3 separate regions of the Homo sapiens genome follow, and regions 1 and 3 are each linked to region 2. The links come from fine-mapping of genetic effects on gene expression. A gene starts in region 2. Each other region holds a variant in brackets. All regions are shown on one strand. Distances are between the middles of the regions.

Region 1 (8,183 bases), 160 kb before region 2:
ACACCCACATCCAGACAACGGCATCATCATTCTCCAGGACAGCCCCACCAAACACCCTCCAGACCCACAATCCCCACAGGGTACTGAATTCATGTTCTCATTCTTATAACTACTTTCAAACCTGGAACAGCATCTACTCATTCAAATCCAACTCTCAGTAATATGGTTACAATTTTGGGTGATATTCTGGCATTTTTTAACTCACAAGTTTGAGATAATGGGCCATTCCTCAATATTCAGTTACTCAGCTAAGTAGCCACAATATTAAACATAGAAGAACTTCAATAGTTGAGATTGTGAAGCCAAATTACTGATTTTATAAAATTCAGATTTTTAAAGTTTATGTTTGAGTCTTGCTATTTTTTTTTTTCACTCTTGTTGCCCAGGCTGGAGTGCAATGGTGCAATCTCAGCTCACTGCAACCTCTGCCTCCCAGGTTCAAGCGATTCTCCTGCCTCGGCCTCCCAAGTAGCTGGGATTACAGGCATGTGCCACCACGCCCTTCTAATTTTGTATTTTTTTTTAGTAGAGACAGGGTTTCTCCATATTAGTCAGGCTGTTCTTGAACTCCCAACCACAGGGGATCTGCCTGCCTTGGCCTCCCAAAGTGCTGGGATTACAGGTATGAGCCACCACACCTGGCCTAGTCTTGCTATCTTAATATGTAAAATGTTTTGAAAGTACTTACACTTTTAAATAAGTATATCTCACTTTAGTCACTAGGTGTTTTACATATTAAAAATGTGTAAATTGAGCCACCTTCAAATGTTAATGGCCTTCTTTTCTGAAATACCCTATAGAAAAAAGAATGTTTATTCCATATCGCTTTTTCATCACCTTCCTTTTATGAACTTTGCTCACAGCAAATACAGCAGATGTGATCTCAAAGGAAAAATACATCTGAGCAGGTTTGCATTCCTGCTGCTCTCTCCCCAGCACCAACACAGAACAGGCTCCAAGAAATGGCTGATCAGGTCAGGCCATGCAGCAGAGCCCCCACCCCACAGGCCTGGCTCTGCCACCCTAGGACGAGGCCTGCAGAAAAGGTTACCTGGAGGACAGAGGCAGGTGGGTAGGGGCCAAGCGTCAGATCTGAGAGAAATGTCTGCCCCAGAGTCCAAAGCACTTGGTGCCAAGCTGTCCTCTCCTAAGTAGGATCCACCTTTCAGAATTCAGGGGTCCTGGTAAACCTGAACACAGGGTGGGGGTTTGTGCACAGGAGGGGCCAAAGTGAAGTCACATTCCCTGACTGGGACAGGCACGGTGAGCCCTGGTATCCGGGCACTCCCAGTCCATCAACACACACTGAAGGGGAAAGCAGGCTGTCGTGCGTTTGGAGCCATGACTTTCATTTTCTACATGTAGCCACTGTTAGGTTGATCCTAAAGCTACCACTTTACATATTTTAAACTCAGCCAAAGGGACTTTCTGTACTGGGTGAACTGTCACCTAGCTGGATGTGTAAGCAGACTGTGACCTACTCTTGTGCCCATCACCGAGTTTTGGCAAATCCTAGGCAGCTGACTGTTCAAACCGTGTTCCAATAAGACAAACCCTGAGCTGTAACCAATCCAGCTGTTTCTGACCTCACTTCCTTTTTCACCTCACTGTCCTTTTTCTGTCCATAAATCTTCCATCATGAGGCAGGCCGGAGACCCTCTGAACCTATCCTGGTTTCGAGGGCTGCCAGATTCACAAATCATTCATGGCTGGGTTTTCCTTTTAACACCATGCTAGAATTCAAAAGGATTTTTTCAAATCACACTGTAGGAATCCGTCTTATTTCCTCAACACTCACAGAGTTTCTGCAATTCTGTTTTTGGCCCTAAACGGCCGTCTGGCACAGCTGCATGGCAGAGAACAGGGATGGGCCAGGCCAGCACTTTCCAGCTGGGACCTCAGCGGGATCCAGGTCAAGCCCCTGTCCCAGGATGAACGCTGCGTGCCCAACACTCCTGGTCCCTTGCCCAGCCATCCTTTGAGAGAACAGGTGTGAGACAGGAATGTTGGGTGGTCATAGGCGACACAGGAAGATATCAAGCAGCGATCTTTCACAGCAGCAAGAAATGAGAGCTGTTAAATCAGCTACCAGGACAAGGGTGAGCCTGGGCTGATGGGGCCCTAACAAACAGGAAGGGGCTAAGCGGCTGAAATGGGCTGAGTCCAACATGGCATTTGGTTTGACCCATGCCCTACCCCAACCTAATTATATGCTCATTAACATCCTAAATCACACACCCTCCGGCACCAAGAGAGATCGGAGCATGGCCATATTTAGTATGGAAATGAGTGGCACCTGAATTCTAAGAAATCTCCACCTTTTTCCTAGAAGACCTCATGATTATTCCACTCCCTCATTAAAAGATCCCATAAAACTAGAAACCCAATCTCTCTAGTGCACGACTCACTCTCCCTAGCCAGCCTGCACTTCACTCTCAAGTGTGTGCTTCACTTTGCAATAAAAGCTTCTTGCCTTTGGCCTCATTCTGACTCGCCCCTGAATTCTTTCTCATGACAGTGTCAAGAACGTAGACACTGGCTGGGGCTAGGGTCTCACTGGCATGTGGGTACCCTCCTGAGCCCTCTGGAAACAGAGCCAGAGCCCTCATGATGCCAGAATAGGACTGAGCACTGCCTCTTGCGCTGAGGACGCATTGTTCATCCCTGTGCAATGTCTTCTTCTAAGGAAAAAGCAAGGCTCCCTAGATCCCACCTTGGTCTCTAATCTCCCAATGGGTTCTTCCTGCCCACTGCATAGACAAAAGCAATTCACTGGGACTGCACCATTGCAGTAGAGAAAGAATTGAATTGACAGGAGGCTGGCCCACGTGGGAGAACTGAGTTAACACTCAAATCAGTCTCCCTGAAGGCTCAGAGCTTGGAATTTTTATGGACAATTTGGTGGGCAGGGGGCTAAGGGATGGGTGCTGCCGAATGATTGGGGATGAAATCATCAGGGTGTGAAGAACAGTCCACACCCCCATGCGCTCATTCCACCTCTGGATGGGGCTACAGGATCAGCTGAGTCATAAATCACAAGTTTAGGGGGAATCAGCCTGAAAGCTCCAAACACCAATCTTAGGTTCTATGATAGTAATGTCATCTATAAGAGCAACTGGGAAAGTCACAATTCTTGTGACCTCTGGCCACATGACCCCTGAGCAGTAAGGGATTATGGAAACTATGCCTACATCTTAGCAGAGTTCAGGCCCCTCTCATAATCCTTACCTTATGGCCTTTTATTGGTTTTACAAAGGTGATTTAGATTTGGGAAGGGCTATTATTATCCTTGCTTTAAGGTTAAACTAGAAACTAAATTCCTCCCAAAGTTAGTTTGGCCTACACCCAGGAATGACCAAGGACAGCTTAGAGGTCAGAAGCAAGATGGAGTCAACCATGTCAGATTTCTCTTGCTGTCATAATTTTGCAAAGGCGGTTTCATATCTAGCATATATATCGAGGGTTGTTTAGTACAACAAGGCCTTTAGCTAAGGTAGACTTACTAATCTGTTGAAGAATCTTAGGGAAAAGACAGCCTCTTTTTCAGATGAGTAAACTGAGGCTCGGAGACTCTAAGCTGGTTGATGAAGTTCATGCAGCCAGGCATAGAGCCGGACCTGAAACCACGTCCTCTGACTCCAGGTCACTCCTTCCCACCCTGCTGCACTACAGCTAGATCAAGAGTGGAGTGTCCACAGCCTTCCCCTTGCTGAGGCCCCAAACTCATCTTCTCCCCACAGGTACAGCCATGAACAATGACACTCAAGGACTTCAGAAAGACCAACCCAAGGCCTCTGTCCTACTTGAATTGGGGGACAAGGGGCTGTCCAAAGGCCAGAACTGATGTCATTGGATGATCTGTTAGTTTCAGGTGCCCATGGCACTCTGACCTCATGCAAATCATAAACACAAGCAAAACCTCTGCATATTCAATTATGTCTCTAGCGGGACTAATGTAGCCTCTGTTAGCACAAAAACTCAGTTCATTTCATAAGACACGAGCAGCTCAGTACAGTGCCTCACTGAACGTTAGAAATGCAGGCAACAACTGAAGGGTAAAAGAGAGGCGAGAGGAAGAGACAAACAGACAAAAATGACATGCTTCATACCACGATTGGCGTTTTGTCAGAATGTGAATTGTTTCAAAATCTTTTCCATTCATACAAGTGGACATGTACACAGAGCAGCTCAGCCTAGGCTTACATTAAATTAGACTTCTATCTTGGTCTTTCTGATCTAACATTTCTAAACATCCAGAATGATTAACTATTTTTATTTTGTGGTGAGGTTCTAGAATATAAGCAACGAAGACAAAAGGCTGGTTTACCCTCGCAAAGGAAACCTTTCTGGCATTTTGCTCACTGCAATGCAATGTAGCATTCATTGAAATATTACATGCAGCTTGCCAGAGCAGCCCTGAATCAGAGCTAGCAATGCTTCAATGAGCCAGGGAGAGTCATAATTCCAAATTCCATTTAGGGAATCACTGGGAGCTGTTCTGTTATTTTCTCTGGAAACCAAATATTCTTGCCCTGTCTCTCTAGAGCTGCCTGCAATTACCTCACTAAGGCGAAAAAGGCTGAACTGGAACAGGAGGACTGACCCTCTCTTGTTATTCAGTCCTGGTGAAGGTCTATACAGCAAGCCCTTTCTGAGAAA[T/C]TTCTCAAGAGATGTTAGCCAGCCAACCAGAGGGCAGTGCCTCCTCCTCCCTTCGACAATCCATGCCAGCCGTGGCCAAACGGCACAGATTAAAACTCAGAATAGCAATTTGTGGTGCTAAGCCAGATGGAGATGAAAAGGTCATTTAAAATTAGAGTTAACTCACATTCTTGCGAGAGATGGGGGTCAGGGCCGGCCCTGCAGAGAACAAGCACCAGGAAAATAACCGTATCCCAGCGCACAGAGAGCCTGAGTCCCAGGGGTCAGCAGAGCATTGGAGGCTGCTCTGCTGTGTAGGCCCAGGGAAGCAGGACCCACACCTCTACTGTTTATCCTCCAAACAAAGGCAGCGCACCTGAGTGCCCTGAAGGTGCGAGCTCTGCACCTGCCACGTCAGAGACTGGAGCCAGGACCCGAGCTGCACGGGGTTCAGGCCGCTCACCTGCCACACACTCCCTTGGAGAGCCTGAAGCTGAGCTCCTGCTGAGGCTTGTTCAGGTTATTAATTAGCATTGCATTAGCAACGGCTGTGCATGGGGGCTGAGGGCAATTCTGTAATATTCTGTAATATAAGCAATTCATATGACGCTTCAATCTGTCTATGTAGGTCTAAATTCACCATGAGGGAATTATAACACGGATTCTAGGTGTAGCATTCATCAAGTGTGATAATGATCTTTTATAACCAAAACTAGATACACATTAAACACTAGCATTAGGAAATGCATTCATTTTTATAAAGGTATTTAATTAAATTTTGTAAAAATTAAATTTTAAATTTTACTTTATTGGAATAATTTTGATTTTTGAATACTCATTAATTAAATTTTGCCTTTTAATTTTAATAACTTTAATTATTTTAAAAGAAAAATAGTACTATTGAAAAATATGAAAAATAACCTTAATTTTTTAAACTTAATTTATCTAAATTTATATTTTATTGGTGAAATGTTCAAATGTCCTATTATGAATGTAACTACATTTTCCTTTCTAATCCTTTAGATTAGGGATGGGTTGGCAAGCTTTCCCTGCAAAGGGCTTCACATCTGAAGAATGCATGAAAGTTGGTATTTTGCTAGAAATAGAAATTATAAAAATGCAGCTTAAAGAAAAAATGGAAATAGTAACAGAAAATATGCAGAGAGCAGCCTGTTTAGATTATTTAAAACTGAAAATAGTAAATATGAACAGACTTTTGTCAAGCATGACCCACACAAAATTTGAGAACAGGGCATTACAAGTTTATTTTGTGAAAATTTAGCTATTGATCAAAAGAGTAAATATGAGCAAGAAAATTATTCTAATCAAATCCACAATTTGAATGATTTCATATTTCCAACTTCAGTCATAAAACATATACTTTTACATATATTTTTATTTGGTTTTTATGAACAAATACTGATTATGGACAAATGTTAAGAATTTTTGTTGTAGTCATTAACAGGTTGGTTTATAACTTTTAAATGTTAAAAAATATATAGCTTGTGAGTCTCCAACTGCACCCCTATCCCAGGCCCTGCAATGCTGATGGCAGGCCTGTCATAAATTGCAGCAGAGGCTGTTTTCTGGATGAACATGGATAAAATCTGCACACTGTCATCAGATTGTTCTTCCTTAAAGACGGTTTTTGATCATAGAAATCCCAAACTCAGAAGGTTTCTATATATCCCCATTGTCTCTAGTTCAAATTCCTCAGACTGACAAGCAACAATGTCCAGTTTCTCCAGAACCTACTTTTCCTTCCTTACTTCTTGACATTCTCTACCCAAATTTTCTACTCTAGTAGACTGGTCTTCCCCAGGGCCTCCTGCCCAGGCATTGCACAGCCACGCTCATCTGCAATGGCTATTCCCGCCCACTCCACCCATTTCAACTCTCAGACCAAGGCTGCCTCCTTGATGACACCTTCCCAACTGCCCATGCATATGGGAGACTTCTCTCAATCCTGTGGCACGTGTTCTCTGTACCCCTCAGAGGTAGGTTGCTCTGTAGTTATGCTACCCATGAATAATGTCTTACTTGCCCAAGCAGATTATTTTCTTAGATTATAACCTGACATTTTTTTTGAGGCACTGATACATGCCAAGTACTGTAAGGAACTTACATTCACTATGAAAGCAAATTCACTGAACCGAATTGACAACTGTCATGGTTAAGTTTAGGTGTCAACTTGACTGGATTAAGGGATACCCAGATAGCTGGTAAAGCCGTGGTCCCCAACATTTTTGGCACAAGGCACCAGTGTGTGGAAGATAATTTTTCCATGGACCAACTGGGGGGTTAGTTTCGGGATTAAACTGTTCCAACTCAGATGGTCAGGCATTCGTTAAATTCTCATAAGGAGCATGCAACCCAGACCCCTCACATGCGCAGTTCACAACAGGATTCGTGCTCCTATGAGAATCGAATGCTGCTGCCGATGTGACAGGCAGCAGAGCTCAGAGGGGAATGCCCACTTGCCTGCTGCTCACCTGCTACTGTGCCTAACTGGCCATGGACCAGTTCCCAGTTCCTACCTGGCCAGGGACCAGTACCACTCTGTGGCCGAAGGGATGAGGACCCCTGCAGCAAAGCATTATTTCTGGATGTGTCTGTGAAGGTGTGTCCAGTGGATATTAGTGCATGAGTCTGAATGGACTAGGTGAGGAAGATCCCCTTCACCCAGTATGGGAGGGCACCATGCAGTCAACTGAGGCCCACATAGAACAAAAAGGCAGAGGAAAGAGAATGTGCTCACTTCTCTCACTTTTGGAGCTGAGACACTCTTCTTCTCCTGCCCTTGGACATCAGAACTCCACGCTCTTCAGCATTTGAACTCAGGAACTGACACCAGTGGCCTCCTCAGGTCTTCAACCTTGGACTGAGATTACACCATAGATTCTCCTGGTTCCAAGGCCTTCAGACCTGGACTGAGCGACACTACCAGCTTCCCTGGTTCTCCAGCTGGCAGAAGGCCTATCGTGGGACTTCTCAGCCTCTGTAATCCTGTGAGCCAATCCCCCTAATAAAGCTCATATATAGATATCTATATCTATACATATCTATAGATATACACACACATATATATATACACATCTATATATATATATAGAGAGAGAGAGAGAGATACATGCCAAGTACTGTATCTATATATATTCCTATATAAACCTATATAGGTTGCATATATAAACCTATATATATGCAACCTATATATACGTATGTTTATATATATACACTTATATTCATATATACATGTGTATATGTGTGTTTGTATATATATTTATATATATGTTTTATTTCTCTGAAAAACCCTAATACGACAACTGGTATCCACCACAATGCTACAAGAACCAAATTTTTTCCACTCTCTTATGTGTGTGTGTGTGTGTGTGTGTGTATATATATATATATATATAGAGAGAGAGAGAGAGAGAGAGAGAGACATGCATATATATAAACCTATATATATGCAACCTATATATATATACGTATGTTTATATATACATTTATATTCATATGTATGTGTGTGTATATGTGTATATATA
Region 2 (8,183 bases):
ACCAAGTTGGCCAATTTATTCCATTATTAGTTGTTAGAAGCAAACACTTACTTCCTTCAACTTCCTTATCTTTGCAGGTTTTCGGGGAACTATATGAATATAACTGCAAAAGAAGAAAGAAGAAAACATCATTAGAAGGAAGATATTTACATAGAAAGTTCCAGACTCCTTAGAAACGAGTCCTTTTCCGGCTTAATAGATACAACCCCACAGCAATTTGGAACTAGGATCTAAAATTTTCTCGGTGTTAGAATCCACATCAGAATACAATAGCAATGCTGCTGTAGGACAGTTTTCACACTGGGTACCACTGGCACTGCCCCTTGAAAGTGTCTCTTAAGTGACATTGCTTTCCCTCACGTAATTTTATTAAAGAGAAACCTGAGAAATCATCTAATTCAACAGCATTCTTTAACCAGGTCGCTGAAGGCCCAGAACTGCGAGCTCATCAATGTTCCCATGACAGGCTAAGGTCGGAACAAAAACCCAGACTCTCCTCCAGCTCCTCTGCACCCCCACCGCTCCCTCCTGCTCACAGAAATTCAGCACTGTTCTCCTTTTGCCAAAACTGCAAACTGGAAAAGAGTCACCAGCATAAAATGTGTCTGAGCCCTACTAACACAATTTTTTTTACTGTTGGGGACTTTTGAGACTTCCATATTCCTCAAAAATAAAATGTTTTCATGGGTAATAAATAATACCTTCAAATTTATATCTGATACTAAGGTTTCTTCCTGATTAAAAAAATATGTATTTGAGATTGTTATTGTTTTTGATAGTTTCAGCAATATTCAGAGAAGGGTCAACTTAGACTGGTAAATAGAAGGGGAAGAAATAACTAAGTGTTCAATAAAGAGTCACGGATGCAGATCCCCACAGAAACTGGTCAAGTAAATGATGGCACTCGCCAAGGGTGGTCTCAGGGACTGGTGGGGGCTGTGGCTGGTGGGACCATCCTTTCCCTTCTGAGGCGGACAGGGCCTCACAGGTCCAGATAGCGGAGATGCACGCAGCTACAACCAAGTCCTCTGAACAATCAAATCCTCTATTTTTTCCAAGGGAGACCAAAAGTTCATATTATTACATGAGTTCTCCCAATTATAAAATGTTGCAGCCAACTCAAATCTTTGAAAATTGTATGAACTGAACAAAACATGGCTGCTGGCTGAGTTCAGCCTGAGCCTCTCCACTTGCTTAGAGGCCCTTGTATGCACTCTTCACTAGCTTAGTCTAGTCTTCCTGTTTTCCAAATAAATATTTTAAATTTGTTCTAAATTCCCAAATTCCATATTTGTTTATGAACATTAATCTCCCAAATGAGACATCTGATTTTCATTACATGGAACCAAAAAATAAAATTTAACACAGAAAAAAAGCATAAAAAGATCCTACAAAAACACAAAATACTATTTATTATTTCAATGTTGCACTCCCAAGAACTTATAAAAACAGAAAGAAAGGACAAATAGTTCCTCAGACAGCCCATGACCTGAGGTCTTTAACTCAGGCACATAGAGAAGCCTGCTGGGTGGGCTTGGCTTGCTCTGAGGTGGGCGGGGAGTAGGTCTGTGAAGCAGTGATGGGACCATGAGGTGCAAGCTCCCTCCCGGCTACTTCCAGAGAACAAAGGAAGGGAAGAAACCACCCATGAGAATCCGTGCCAGGCACCTTACCCTACTGCATTCATTCCATTCTCCCAACCGTACCGCAGAGTGGATGTGAAGCCAGCCTGCTTTATGGATGAGGAAACCAAGTCTTGGAGAGGTTATTTCACTTGCTGAACGTTACTCAGGTAGACAAAGCCAGGATTAAATTCCACCAGTCTCTGGCTCTGAGGCCAACATTCCTGTCATCTATCACAACTTCCTCTCCACCCACTTTTCCTCTTTCTCCTGTCATCTGCGGCTAGTTCCCAGGTACAAATGGGTGGCCAGGGAGATGAGAGGAAAAGGCTGGGTTGAGGAAGAACGAGGAGACTTTGATTCAAATAGCATGTTCACATTCATGTCTCAGCAACAAGCTCTAAAGTAAACAGGGTAATATTCCTAAGCATTCAAATTCTTTGGGGTCCCTCCCCTAAACACATACACACACACACGCACACACATGCGTGCACACATACACAACACCCTGATTTAGATTTTGTTGTAAATGTGGCTTTCTCCACAAAAGAAATATTAATTCTAGGCTTTATATGACACGTCATTGTTTTGAAAAGTAATTATTATCTTATAATATTTTGTTTTATAAAGAAAAAAATTATGTCCTTTGGGTCTCAAATTATTTTCTTCCAGAAAATGCAGGAAATGTCTGAGTAATGGCTGGATATTGGATAGATTTGTTGGTGTTTGTCTTTTTAATGCACCATCTTGAAACCACTATTATGAGGGGAGCTCCCGGATCACTAATATATCAACAGGCTTCACTTCAAAGTTCATTTGCTGGTGACACAATTAGAATATTATTTTCCAGTGAAAATTAATTGAACTGCTCAATGGCTTAGCAATTACAGAATATAAATTTCCAAGAGCTAGTTTACTTTACTAATACCAGTGAAAATCCAGCCACATTTTTCAGAGCTTTGTTCACCAAAGTCTGAATTCCAATTTCAGACTCACTGACCTAAAAAAAACTGAAGAAAAGGAACCCCACGTGCTCTCTATGTTGAACTTCACATGCAGACATGGCTCATCTATTTTACAGCAGTGAAGATGCATGGATAATAGATAATGCAAAATAACCCAGGCTGTCTGCCACACGGACCCCAACTCCCCTCCCTCTGCAGTGGGTGACATTTCTTTCCTCCCAAAAAGTAAAATAAACAGTAAGAGCACTGGGAAGAAAAACATCTCAATTTTTTCTCAATATTTTTGCTACATGTCCAAAACATTTTAAATAAACCATGAGACTCGAGACTCTCTCTACAAAACTGGAGGTACAACACGGTCTGGTTAGAAAATATCCAGCCCCACAGCAAGGGGAAAGAGTAACATCTCCCAGGCACACTCCAGGCTTCGTGGCAGGTGCTTGATACGTTTCCTTCCTCATTTGCTAACATGTAAAACACAGGCCAATTTTACAAGAAAATGTCTTGGGATAAAATTAAATACTTTTCATTATATATGTATCGAAAGGGACTTTAAAGGCAGTTTTTGTAGAGATATATTCTTTAATTGTAAATCAGCACTGAACACTGGATCCTGGGTAGGATGTCAGTTCTAGATATTCACACCATCTGACTAGCTTGGAAAAAATAATCACAAATCACATGGCTATAAAGGAATATAATTTTGTCCATGAATTCTAATACATAACAGGATTATCATAGTAATAAATTTCAATCTGAAATATGCTAATCCAGATTCTACCTCTTAGCAACTGTGATGCCTGTGACTTACGACTTTTCTTCAGAAACAACTGAATGGTAAATTCACATCTTTGCAAATGCCACTAAGAATTTGGAACCATACACCAGCCCTCATACTAAATCCTACTACTTTTTCAAAAAACAACAAACAAAACTCAAGCTGCTGATTTAATTCAGAGCATTTTTGAACGGAGAGCATTTGAAAGAAGAAAATGGAAATTCTCTCTGGGGAATCTCACTTTTATCTCAGCCCTGAAGAATGTCCCCACACAAAGCTATACAAAAGGAGTAGTTCACAGTCAAAAAATAAGTAAACCTACAAGGAAACAGAGAATCAGGAGAGAAAAGCAGCTGAGATCACAGAAAGCAGACACAGGCTGCAATAATGGGATTACAGACACAAACCGTGGGAGGGCAATAGTTTAATTAAAGGCAAGCTTGAAAATGCACGCAGGACCAAGTGATGGACACAGAGTGAGAGGGGTCACCCTGAGCGATTTCAAATGGGAACTGCCCAACCCGCCCCATTCCCAGGCCCTGCCCCCCACGCCCCTCCCCCCCACGCCCCTCCCCCCTCCCCCTCCCCTACACTCCTCCCCACGCCCCCCACGCCCCTCTCCACACCCCTCCCCCATGCCCCTCTCCACACCCCTCCCCCACGCCCCTCTCCACACCCCTCCCCCACGCCCCCCACGCCCCTCTCCACACCCCTCCCCCATGCCCTCCTCCACACCCGTTTCTGCCCCATGCCCCTCCCCCACGCCCCTCCCCCCTCCCCCTCCCCTACACTCCTCCCCACGCCCCCCACGCCCCTCTCCACACCCCTCCCCCATGCCCCTCTCCACACCCCTCCCCCACGCCCCTCTCCACACCCCTCCCCCACGCCCCCCACGCCCCTCTCCACACCCCTCCCCCACGCCCTCCTCCACACCCCTGTTTCTGCCCCACGCCCCTCCCCCACGCCCTCCTGGCCGTCTCTGGGGCGGTCCTGAATCGCTGCCGGCCAGGGCCCGCCCTGCCCCATAGGAAGGGACCCTGGGGGCGGGGCTGCCTCGGCTTCGCCCCCAGGAAACCACGTGGCCTGGGGCGGCCCGACGCCGGCTGCGCTGGATCCACGCCGAAAGATGGGCGCCCGAGCCGGGAGGGAAGCCTGGGGAGGACACCTGGGGGGCACGGCCCTGACCACGCTCAGACCCAAGAGGGCGGGGAGGGGCGCAGGGCGCGTGGGGGGCGCGGGCGCACTTACTCGAGCTCCTTGAAGCGCTCGCGGCCCGCCGCCACGTACTTGCCGCCCGCCTGCAGCGCGTCCAGCCCCAGCACCCGGTGCCCACGCGTGGGCGTGAAGAGGCGGCGCACGCCGAACGGGACGTCCACCTGCTCCGTGAGCTGCTCCAGCAGCGCCTCGAAGGTGGCCGCGCGGCGCCGCGACAGCACGAACTTCTTGCCCACGTAGAACGGGTCCCCGTTGCGGTACACCACGATGGTCTTGGCGGGCGTGGTGTCCACCGGCGCGGAGGGCCCGCGGGTTCCCATAGCCGCGCCCCGCTCCTCGCTCGCCGGGGCCGAGAGGCTGCGGCAGCGCGGGCAGCGACGCCTGCAGAGCCGCGCCCAGGCCCGGGCACCGCCGACGGGAGGTCCGCTCCAGCCGCTGGCGCAGGACGGGGACGGGACGGGGACGGGACGGGGGCTGGACGGGGACGGGACGGGGCTGCCAGGCGGGCGGAGGCTGCGTGTTGACGCGACCCTGGGCGATTGTGACCGCCTGGCCGCCAGGGCGAGGGGCTCGGGGCCGGGGCAGGAGACGGGGCGACGGGGAACCCGGGCAGGTGAGCAGGCGGCACGGGGCAGGGACAGGTGATTGGGTAATGGGGAGCCCAAGCAGGTGAGGCGCGGCACAGGGCGGAGACAGGTGAGGGGGCAACGGGGAGCCCGGGCAGGTGAGGGGCGTGGCGGCAGAGCTCAGGAAAAGAGGAGGAGGAGGCGGCTAGCATGATTGTGCTGAGCGCCCCGGGACGCCCACCGTGCCTCCTCCCCCTACACTCGCCGCCTTCCTCTGTAGAAGCGGTAGAGAGGAGGGTTAGGGAGGGACCAGGACCATCTTGACAATCAACATTGGATGGGTGCTGGGATCTGCTTCACATTTTTTGAGCCTCTGTTTCTTTGATCTTAGGTTGAATTTGACCGGTTCAGCCCCAGTGTCTTCCAGGACTCCTGGCCCAGAGTGGGGAATTTGAGCTTTTCCACCAGAGGAGGAGGTGTGCAGAGCCACTGGGAGGCCGTGAGGAACCGCGCTATAGCCGCTGGTGTGCGGTGTCAGGCGCGTGCCATTCAGAACGCATCCTCATTGGGGAATGATTCAAAGGGAGAGGGGGTCTTTGGAAGAATCGTTCCTACTCTGGGTAAAGATAGGCCAGTCCCCTTGAGTGATTCTAGACAGTCAGTAGGCTACATGTTACGGCTGGAAGTCCACACCGAAGGTACAGATATTGATATTATGAGTATTAATATCTTATAATGTTCAAAAAAAGTAGTTCCGTAGAGACCACCAGTCACAGCCATAGCCAGTATGTAAGCTACTAAATGCCTCATAGCAACATTAAATACAGAGATCAATTTGTGAGACGACCACTTTATTAAATCACCAGGTGTTCAAAACATTTGAAAAGAAGACTATGACTGGGAAATTACTGCTGTGTGTCCGACACCGGGGCTTTGTGTGTGTTAAGGGTTTGCTTTGAAGCTCACCGAGAACTTCAACATGGGCTTCTCCCGGGGCCTCAGGAGGCAGATGGAGCTGGGGAAGCCCCGGAGCCGAAGGCGGCTCACTCCCCCGTCGGGGACGATGGTGAGCCTGGCGTGAGTGATGACATCTTGGAGCTCTAGGGTCAGGCTATCGAACAGATGACTTTGGTTGGGAGACAACTGAAAAGCAAGCAGATGCAGAGGTCCTAGTCTGTTAACAGGACATGTGTGGCCGAATGAGCCCACGGCCCGGGCAAACCTTTGGCTTAGACTTAACCGAAGGGGCTTTAAAATAAGTTATTAATTGATGATAATTGGGCTTTCCATGAAAATCTGCTAGTAGGGATAGGATGCCCAAATAATACATGAATAAGCAGGCCCCAATAAACAATTGATGGGCAACCTAAATGCCCATCAGTTGTTTCTAATAGTTGATTATACATAAGCAAATTGATAAGAAAATGAAGGAAGAGACCATCTTGGTCTCTCCCGGAGATTATTTCCTATCTTTACATGGGAGCAGCTCTCACCTCTAGCCTGACCCTCTTTCTAAATCAAAGAAGACACTTGTGGAATATCTCAGAGCATCCATCCTGCAGGTGGACACGCCATTAGAGCTTTAAATGTGCTAGTCGCCCCTTCTACAAAGTTAAACATGATGCAGAGACATGTTTCCACGTATGTATTCTGAACATTTAACAATTTTGTTCTAATAAAATTTGGAAATACAAAAGTGGAGAGAAATAGAGCCTTTCTTCTTAAAGTTTGCAGATAGGGGTTTTAAACCTCATTCGTTTTACCATTAAACTGAGCAGAAACTTTGGAGCGTATCCTAATCCTTCAAAAGAGAATCTTAGGGAAATAGCACAGTCTGAGTGCTGGATCCGAATAACATGCCACACGAACCTTGGTCACTGGAAGCAGTGGTTTCCACTTGTGGGCCGGGAGAATCCACTTTTGCCTGATCACGGCTTCTTCTTCCTGAGTTGTCAGGATGCACCCATCCACTTTACAGCTGTCAGGAGCATTGCCTGTTGGAGCAAAACACAGCGTGATTTTCTGCCCGCATTTGCACTCAGTTTGGCGTATAGGATATCATGCTTTTTTAATAAGATCAAAAACCCAGCAAAAAACAAGTCCCTGCTCTTCCTGAGCAAAAGCAAAGGTATGAAGTATGTGAGGGAAGGAACAAACCGGTTTGTGAGGCTCAGATTGTCTCATGAAATAGACATTTCTTTTTCAGAGGACTCAGAAGCAGTCCGCCATATGTGAAGGGGCTGGCGCATTTCAATTTGCATGTATAGCGTTCTCACTTTGAAATCTGAATGTATTTGATAAGCTTCCTCAATTGCAGATTTAATTACTTGCAGACTGCTATGTGGCTCATCTGAAATTATTATGAAGCTGGAAAATATTTTCCTATGACATATTTTTTAACATGACAATCAAAAGGAAATACTGAGTTTTATGTTAGCTAGCGCTGGGCACCAGCCACACACGTGTATTTGGGGATTTCTGAGTCATCTTCAGGTGAGAGTATATGGTCCTGAGATTCTTCTCTCTTTGGAATATCATAGGAATCGTGGGCTCAGTGGGGTTAGAGGACCTTGAGGGAAAGGTCCCACTCTCTTTGAGAAGAGAGAACTTCTACTGGAGCTCTTTAGGATCAACAGAGGAGGAGCTGCTAATCAAGAACCCTGGAAAAGAGGAGACTGTGGCTCACATGCCCCCTTTGTGGCCCATCTCTTAAAACGGTAGTCTCCAGGGTGGGCGAACATGCCCCTGGGGTGCATACGGACACAAAGGATGCAAGTAGAGAACATTAGAGCTGCTATTTCTATTTGTCTGATATACATACATATGTATGTGTATATTAAGCTTTGTGTATTTGATATAACCTACTATATTATTGCTATAAGTGGATACTGCCATGCTCCCTCATTTCCATTACAGTCATCATATTGTATGTACCAGAGGTATCCTGAGTGTTTGACAGTGGTAGATTCATGACCTGTTGCAGTTTTGGGTGTCTGCTTAAGTGGATTTACTGTTTGTTATCTAGTTTTAACTAAAG
Region 3 (8,183 bases), 23 kb after region 2:
CCATGTAAGACATGCCTTGCTTCGCCTTCTCTTTCTGCCATGATTGTAAGTTTCCTGAGGCCTCCCCAGTCATGTAGAACTGTGAGTTAATTAAACCTCTTTTGTTTGTAAGTTACCCAGTCTCAGGTAGTATCTTTATAGCAACGTGAGAGCAGAGTAATACCGCTTTTATTTAAAAAGACGGGGGAATAGTGGATGCTAGCGAGGATGTGGAGAAAGTGAAGCCCATGTACACTATTGGTGAGAATGTAAATTAGTACACTCACTATGGAAAACTATGAAAACTCCTCAAAAAACTAAAAATAGAACAACAATAGATTCATCCAGCAATCTCACTACTGTGTATATATCCAAAAGAAAGTAAATCAATATATTGAAGAGATATCTGCACTTCCAAGTTTACTGTGACACTGTTTACAATGTCACAGCCAAAATATGAAATCAAAGTAAGTGCCCATTAACAGAGGAATAGATTTTAAAAGTGGTATATATACACAATGGATTGGGGATGGATACCTCATTCTCCATGATGTGATTATTATTCATTGCATGCCTGTGTTAAAACATTTCATGTACCCCATAAATATATATATACCTACTATGTGCCCATAATTGAAAATATTTTAAAAAAGAAAATATGGTATATATACATATACCATGGAATACTATGCAGCCATAAAAAGGAATGAAATAATGGCATTCACAGCAACCTGGATGGAGTTGGAGACCATTATTCTAAATGAAGTAGTTCAGGAATGGAAAAGCAAACATCATATGTTCTCAGTTATAAGTGGGAGCTAAGCTATTAGGATGCAAAGACATAAGAATGATACAATGTGGGGAAGGGTGGGGGGTGAGGGATAACAGGCTACACATTGGATACAGTGTACACTGCTCTGGTGATGGGTGCACCAAAATCTCAGAAATCACCACTAAAGAACTTATCCATGTAACCAAACACCACCTGTTCCCCCAAAAACCTGTTGAAATTTAAGACAAGTGAATAGAGATCTGAAGAGAAATTTTTCCAAATAAAACATACAAATGGCCAATAAACATATGAAAAGATGTTCCTCCTCATTAGTCATCAGGGAAATGCACATCAAAACCACAATGAGACACCACCTCACATCCACTAGGATGACTATAAACAAAAAGTAAGACAGAGAGTGCTGGGAAAGGCAGGGAGAAATCAGCACTCCTTTACGTGGCTGTTAAGAATGTAAAATAGTGCAGCACTTTCGGAAAAGCCTAGTAATTCTTCAAACAGTTAAACACAGAGTTATCATATGACCCAGAAAGTCCAGTCTTAGGCATACACTCAACAAAAGAAAGCATATATCCACACAAAATCTTGTACACAAATGTTTACAGCAGCATTGTTCAAAATAGCCAGCAGATGGAAACAAGTGTCTGTCAACTAATGAACGGGTAAACAAAATGTGGTAGTGGTTGAGTATCCCTTATCTGAAATGCTTGAGACCAGAAGTGTTTGGATTTCAGTTTTTTTAAATATTTGCATTATACTTACTGGTAGAGTGTCCCAAATCCAAAATCTGAAATATTCCAGTGAGCATTTCCTTTGAGCATCATGTCAGCACTCAAAAAGTTTTGGATTTTGGAACATTTCAAATTTTGGGGCTTTCAGATTTGAGATGCTCAACCTATATTAGCCTTACACAAAAAGAAAGAAAGTGTTAATACATGTTACAACATGGATGAATCTTGAAAACATTATACTAAGTGGAAAAAGTCAGACACAAAAGACCAATATTATATAATTCCTACTTATATGAAATGTCCAAAATAGTCAAAACTATCAAGACAAAAAGCAAATTAGTGGTTGCTTTGGGATAGGGAAGATGAGGGATGATAGCTAAAGGATATGGGGTTTCTTTCTGAGATGATAAAAATGTTCTAAAGGTATGGTGATGGTTGCACGTGTCTATGCATATGCTATACATCATTGATTGTACACTTCAAATGGGTGAACTGCATGTTAATTATATCACAATAAAGCTATTAAAAAATAAAATGAGTCATTTGTACATACCACTTCAGCTGCTAATATAACATACTTGTGAAATCTAGTTAGGATCTATCTAACCTAATACAACTTAGTTCCACCACATCCTAATTTACTTGATAATTTTTCAATAACCACCTATTGATGTGTGGATTAAAACAAGAATTTTCTAGAGCATAAAAAGGAGAAATTACAATCCTGAAATGCTAGAGAGATCAATTACCAAGAAGGAAAGAGCAAGTCATTTTATATTTTATAAACATGTCAACATAAAATAAAGAAGCCATGGAACTGGTGATAAGTCCATGTCACGATTACCTGGGAAAATGTTGAGTCTGATATGAGTCCATCTCTGCTGGGAATTGACAAGAAAATAGTTGTGGCCGGAAGCAGGGTTTCCTGGCTTAAGCTCAGTCATGGGAACCAAGTAACTCCAGTCGTCGGATTTTAGCTAGCAATAAATATAGAAATGTCAGCAATTGCTCTTGAAAACAATAAATTCTGTCATCCTATTGCCTCTGTGGCACTTAAGGTGTGGAGATACTTTGGAATAAAAATTAATGATGGATGCCGGGCACGGTGGCTCACGCCTGTAATCCCAGCACCTTGGGAGGCCGAGGCGGGCGGATCACAAGGTCAGGAGATCGAGACCATCCTGGCTAACACGGTGAAACCCCGTCTGTACTAGAAATACAAAAAATTAGCCGGGCGTGGTGGCGGGCGCCTGTAGTCCCAGCTACTCGGGAGGCTGAGGCAGGAGAATGGCGTGAACCTGGGAGGCGGAGCTTGCAGTGAGCCGAGATCGCGCCCCTGCACTCCAGCCTGGGCCACAGAGCGAGACTCCGTCCCAAAAAATAAACAAACAAATAAATAAATAATGATGGATACCTAATGAAACACTTTAATAAAAATAGTACATATCAAGCCCCATGTTTAATAAAAAACAGAATAAAGGCCTGTTTTGTTTTCACTGATCAAAACAGCCAGTGGGTGATGGTGGCAGATGCTTGCAAATGAAGGACAAGATCTCAGACCCCTCCAAATGTCTTCACCTTGAGGTGTGGTGAGGTGAACATTCAAATAAAAACCAAGGCTACTGCCATGCTCCATGACCTCTGGGGAAATCTGCTGGCCTGAGCCTTGCAACCATTTTCTCTAGGTTAGCACTTCTCAAACTAACGGCCCTGTTTACTGTTCCTGTTATTTACTTTCCTGTCTGTTATGGATCAACATTTCTGTAAAAAACAATACAAACTATTACTAAATAAACATTAAAAAAACAAGAATGTACCAAAACACAAGCCCTATTTATTTTTTTCCCCCGTTTCTTTTATTAAATTCTCCAAACACAAACGTTACTTCAAGTTACATCAAGTTGGTATAAAAAGTGTTTAAACGCTTACTATCAGTTTCTGTATGTGTGCTTATCGGGGCCAGCAGCCATTTGCAGATGGGTGCTGGTGGAACCCTTTGAGAAGCCTTTGGGCCATGATGCTCACTCTTCCCAGGTTGATGAACCACTGAGACGTTTGCAAGGCCACAGTGGGTAAGCAAATGATGTGGGGAGCATCAGGGCTGGGCGTCCCAAAGAATCGCCTTGCACAGCCAGGTGTGCAGAGCAGTTTCCCTACTCTCCTAATAATTGGTGACAAGACCCAATTCATTTGGGGGAGATGTACCTCAGCAATGGCTTCAAACTCCTCAGGAGTGGCTGCAGCTCCTGTCCTGGTTCCTCTTTCTGGGATTTCTGGTAGTTTATCTGTAGTTGGAATGACCATTCAGGATTAAGATTAGGGTTCAAAATCAAAGGGAATCTACTCTCTTGGTGGTTTGTATGGTAATTCTCGCTTTGCAAATAACACTAAAGATATTTCGAAGTATCAAATGATCAAAGTAATAGACACACTTGTTGAAGTTCCTCAATATTTAATATATTAACAGTCATTTCAAAAAATAGTACAAGATGTTTGATACTACATTTGCTTGTCAAACAGTAAATGTCATCTCCAAGTTAGCTCAAACTTCAACAAGTTTATCACATCGCTAGAGTTTTCAAAGTTGGACTATTACAAGGTCAATTCCAGAAACACCACCTCTCCCAGTGGCATCCTTAGAATTGATACTGGGGCAATTCAGAAATAGAAGCACTCATGGGCAGTTGAGGGGCTTGCC[G/A]AAACAATCTTACTCGTTTGTCACTGGTCATTTCCGCTTTTAGAGTAGCATCTCTTGTAGCATCATTTCCTGTTCAGGTGCCCCAGCCATCTTCAGGGAGCAGGGCCCGTTCGTGTCCACAGAGCCTCATGCAGCGCTGTGCACATAGCATGTTCAGTGTAAACTTGCCAACCCACATTGACTTATCTTCCCTAAGTACATGTATAAACACACACATAATTGTATATTTTTTTTAATTAATGCTAAAGTCAACATCAGATGGTAACAAAGGAATAAAAATACAGAAAGTCTGTGGAGACAAAGTGACTCCATCTTGGATGCGAATCTGCCATGTCAATGTCTGATTAGCCTCAATCCTGTGAACACGTCCTGCTTCCAACTTGATTTACTGTCCTTAGTCCAGAACATGTCAACCTTGATATTATCGCACAAATCAGAGGCTGTGACGCACACCGCCCTCTTCCCTGTTCTGGAGGCTGCCTTCAGTTGTCCCGCTGGAGCACGCAGACCCTTTCCCTACAGCATGTGAGCCCTGAGTCCGGGCAGTAACAGTGCAGAGATTTACCCATCTCGCTGCTGCCCAAGGCCACGCTTCTGTCCGTAAGTTCCCCCAATAAAATACCCGTTACCAACAGACTGGATTTGTCAGCCTCTTTCTTTGGTTTCTTGGCTTCTTCAGCACCTGAGGTCTGCTCTGTGTATATGGCCCTTTCACAGAATACGTCTCATTTATAGAGCCTGCAGGATTCATAGGTCCAGCATTCCAAGATGCAGATAGGAACCCTTGCCTAAAATGCCATAGCAGCTCCCCCATCACACACACTGGGACAGCCCAAAGCAGGGCTGGTGCTGCTCACCCCACAGCTGTCCCAGACCTGGGTCCACATCACCCGGGTCATCTGAGGCACAAACCACTCCCTCCCGCCCACCAGCAACCTGCTCACCCACGTTCCAGGGATGATGGCCTGCCTCTGCGTGAAGCTGAAGGACCGTGGGAATGATAAAATCTATATCTGGCTGTTAACACTATTAAGCCACAAATCAAAAACCACAGAGCGCTCTACTAGGAGTCCTGGTCCTACAGCCCCGTTACAGTAAAGTAGCCTTAGTCAAGCGCCTGAAGCTGTCTGGGTGGTAGGGAAAGTGAGCAGTTGTGGGGCTGTGGCTGGCCAGAGGAGCCATGTGACCCATAATTCTCATTTTGGGGACAGTGGTTCCTAACGCACCTTCTTCCAAGTTTGCTGCTTGAATGGACACTCGAGGAGCGTAATCTCCCGTGAAGTAAGAAACGTCCACGTCGAAGCCCCGGATGACTCCTTGGATCCCCAGCCTGAGGACACACCAGTCGTGACCTGCGCAACACAGAGGACAAGAGCAGTCTCGTTAGGGCCAACACAGCAGATGCTGCATGCGAGGCAGTGCACCCCACATGCACCTGACCCACAGCAGGGGCCATTCCGTCCATCACAGAAAAAACTGTTCAGGGCGGTTCTTAGCTAATATGACTGTAGGATCTCTCATAACCTGGCCACATGTGACCACCATTCCCCAACGAAAATCCTCAGTTCTAGCCAGAAGAGAAAATGCACAGGCTGGGATCCAGGAAGACCTGATTCTGGTTCCAAATGGATCATTTCCTATGACTGTCCTTGGCAAATTATTTACCTCTTACAGTAGAGAATCTCATTTTCTCAACTGTAAATTAGGGATGCCGTTAGCTTCCATAAAGCTTAGACTGAGTGTGCGATGTAGAAAGCACCTCACCAAGCTCAGCAGGTAGTAAGCAGAGCTGGTTCTCCTGCAGACACTGTGTTCATTGTCCTCTCAAGCTCAGGAACTGACACAGCACCCTCCAGCCTCCAGCCCCACCACTGGTCAGACACCTGCCTGCATCTACCAAAGCCTTCAGAGTCTTGAAGTCAAGTCTGCCACTATTGAGTTCTTGGTTATTTACTGCCAGATATTAACTCACCTTAAAATGTCCAGATTTGTTAGAAACTAATACTGCTTCAAGTACTGTAGAAAGTTAGAAAACTAGAAATATCAAATATTTCTGTAATACTTGAGATAGTGGCAAGTAAAAATCCAATTATCAACCTAATGCCTGGATTTGTTTGCTTTTCTTCAACTTCAGAAGGTATATTTTGATTGAGACTGAGTAATAGCAATGAATAAAAATTGCATAAAATCGTAAAAGACAGCGGGTACAGTGTTGAGGACAGACCCTGGCCCAGTCCCCAGCTTATCTTGCTAGCAGTGTGCCCTGGGCTGAGTCCAGGAATCTGTTTCCATGGCGGTTAAACGGGGATAAAGAGACCTACTCCAGAGGACTGTAGTAAGGACCCAGAAGATGCACGCTGCCTAATGCCTGCCACATTGCTCAGTGAGAATCCACTCTTTTTTCCATCCGCAGACCTCACCAGGGTTTTCATTTTCCCGACAACGTGCTTCTCACCCTTTGTGCCTGGTGGGACGTCAGTGACCCGGGCTCACGCTGCCCCTTCCTGACTTAGAGCCTGATGTTCAGATAAGGACATCCAAGATTACAGAGCATTCCAGGGCCCCATGTTAAAGCTGACCCAAAACGGACACTGGCTTTGCCACAGCCTGCGTTTTTAACTTTGCAGTGTCAGCTGCACTTCGATGAACGAACCGTTGTTATTACCTGGAATCCTTTTCCTCCTGGTCTCCCAGCCATCCATCCATTTCCCAAACTCCGTATATTCATGCTCTTTGAAGCACGGGCTGTCACTCTAGGGCAAAGACCACAACAAGGTGATCATTAACATTCATGTGATCTCCTGGCTTCCAGCAAGTCCACTTCTGTCCCACAGTGCCAGAGGAACGGTGCAAACCGGGGTCTAGGGGAGCCTCTGCCACCACCTTCATGCCCAGCTAGCCCCTTCCAGATTGAGAGATGCCTCCGCTTTTATCATCTTCAGAGAAAGAAATGTGACTTCTTTGTGGGCCTCAGCACACAGAATTGACCACTGATAGCAGCAGGTACAACCACATCACCAGGCACTCTGTGGGCCGCACAAATGCAATTCCCAACAGCAACCTACATGGGTATTAAAGTGAGAGAGGCTGGTCAGATTTCCAAGCAGGCCAGGTAGACTATTCAATCAGGAATTCATCCAAAGTCATAGGAAGAGTAGGCTGGACGCTCAGGGTCCAGGTGAAACCACACAGCACACTCTGCAACCCCCTGAGGAAATGCATGGTCTCTGATGCCCCACACAGCCTCCTTAGACAGCTGAGCACACTTCTTCATCTTCCAGAATGAGGAGGATACACGCATCCTCGCAGGAGTGTCATGAAGTTGGAATAGCCGACATGAAAGACCCTCAAATAGCGTGGATGCTCAGAAATCGTTATGCTGGCCCAGCATGGGGATACTTTCCCTGTTTCCATCAAGTCGTGCAAGGAGGATCTTACGTTACTGCTTAGGGAATCTCCCCAGGCAGGAGCAGAGGAAGGGACTAGGGGTAGCAGGACCCAGGGCGGCAGGGATGCTCTGATGGAAGCTGATGCATGAGACGCCAACCAGGGATCCCGCCAGACTCCCTGGTGTGACAACCTGCCCAGCCTCCCAGGCAGGGGACCCGTGGCCAACGGTACCCACCTTCCTGTGCCTCAGTGCTCCTCCTCTGTCAAAGGCAAACAGCCATCGTGCTATTGACCGCCTCTGGCTGTTGTCAACCTTAAATGTGCCTGGCACATAGTAAGTGCCCAGTATTTAGCATTATACATGAAAGTTGATGGTATTTTGAATGTTATTACAATCAAATCACATCTTAAAGACAGCACACACTCCAGCCTTTCCATTACTCATCAGGAATTGCAAAACTCTGCTCTGAACCCAGAAGGAGAGAAGGAGGTACACCTCCCACTTAAACCCCAGACCTCCAAGGCCCCAAACTTTTTGGTGTTTAGTTTTGGGGGTAGGTTGATTGTTTCAGGTGTGTTGCTGCTACTGCTGCTG

Direction of the effects. Alleles are on the strand shown, and positions count from the first base shown. SD is a standard deviation of normalised expression in the study named. Not every link is listed here.
With allele T in place of C in region 1, the expression in subcutaneous fat of the gene that starts at base 5,077 in region 2 is higher (moderate effect, 0.55 SD a copy in FUSION).

Evidence for each region.
Region 1: its variant is fine-mapped to the expression of DCDC2C in subcutaneous fat (FUSION, PIP 0.95).
Region 3: its variant is fine-mapped to the expression of DCDC2C in tibial nerve (GTEx, PIP above 0.99).

What each region holds. Positions count from the first base shown.
Region 1 is chr2:3,861,932-3,870,114 of GRCh38, reverse strand. No RefSeq gene overlaps it. Among named protein-coding and RNA genes, the nearest start is that of LINC01304, 110 kb to the left of the region's middle. RefSeq lists a silencer at 386-594. The variant T/C (reference allele first, on the strand shown) is at 4,660.
Region 2 is chr2:3,700,469-3,708,651 of GRCh38, reverse strand. DCDC2C (doublecortin domain containing 2C) reads right to left here and starts at 5,077. Exons shown (of 11, transcript NM_001287444.2): 1 at 4,614-5,077; 2 at 52-103. The coding sequence starts at 4,900. It overlaps ALLC (allantoicase), which reads right to left. Exons shown (of 12, transcript NM_018436.4): 11 at 7,016-7,140; 12 at 5,981-6,289. The coding sequence ends at 6,089. It overlaps LOC105373393 (a long non-coding RNA gene), which reads left to right and starts at 5,152. Exons shown (of 3, transcript XR_922732.1): 1 at 5,152-5,193; 2 at 5,538-5,844; 3 at 6,013-6,092.
Region 3 is chr2:3,677,236-3,685,418 of GRCh38, reverse strand. ALLC (allantoicase) reads right to left here. Exons shown (of 12, transcript NM_018436.4): 4 at 6,864-6,951; 5 at 5,425-5,550; 6 at 3,706-3,785; 7 at 2,345-2,477. Among named protein-coding and RNA genes, the nearest start is that of DCDC2C, 22 kb to the left of the region's middle. The variant G/A (reference allele first, on the strand shown) is at 4,199.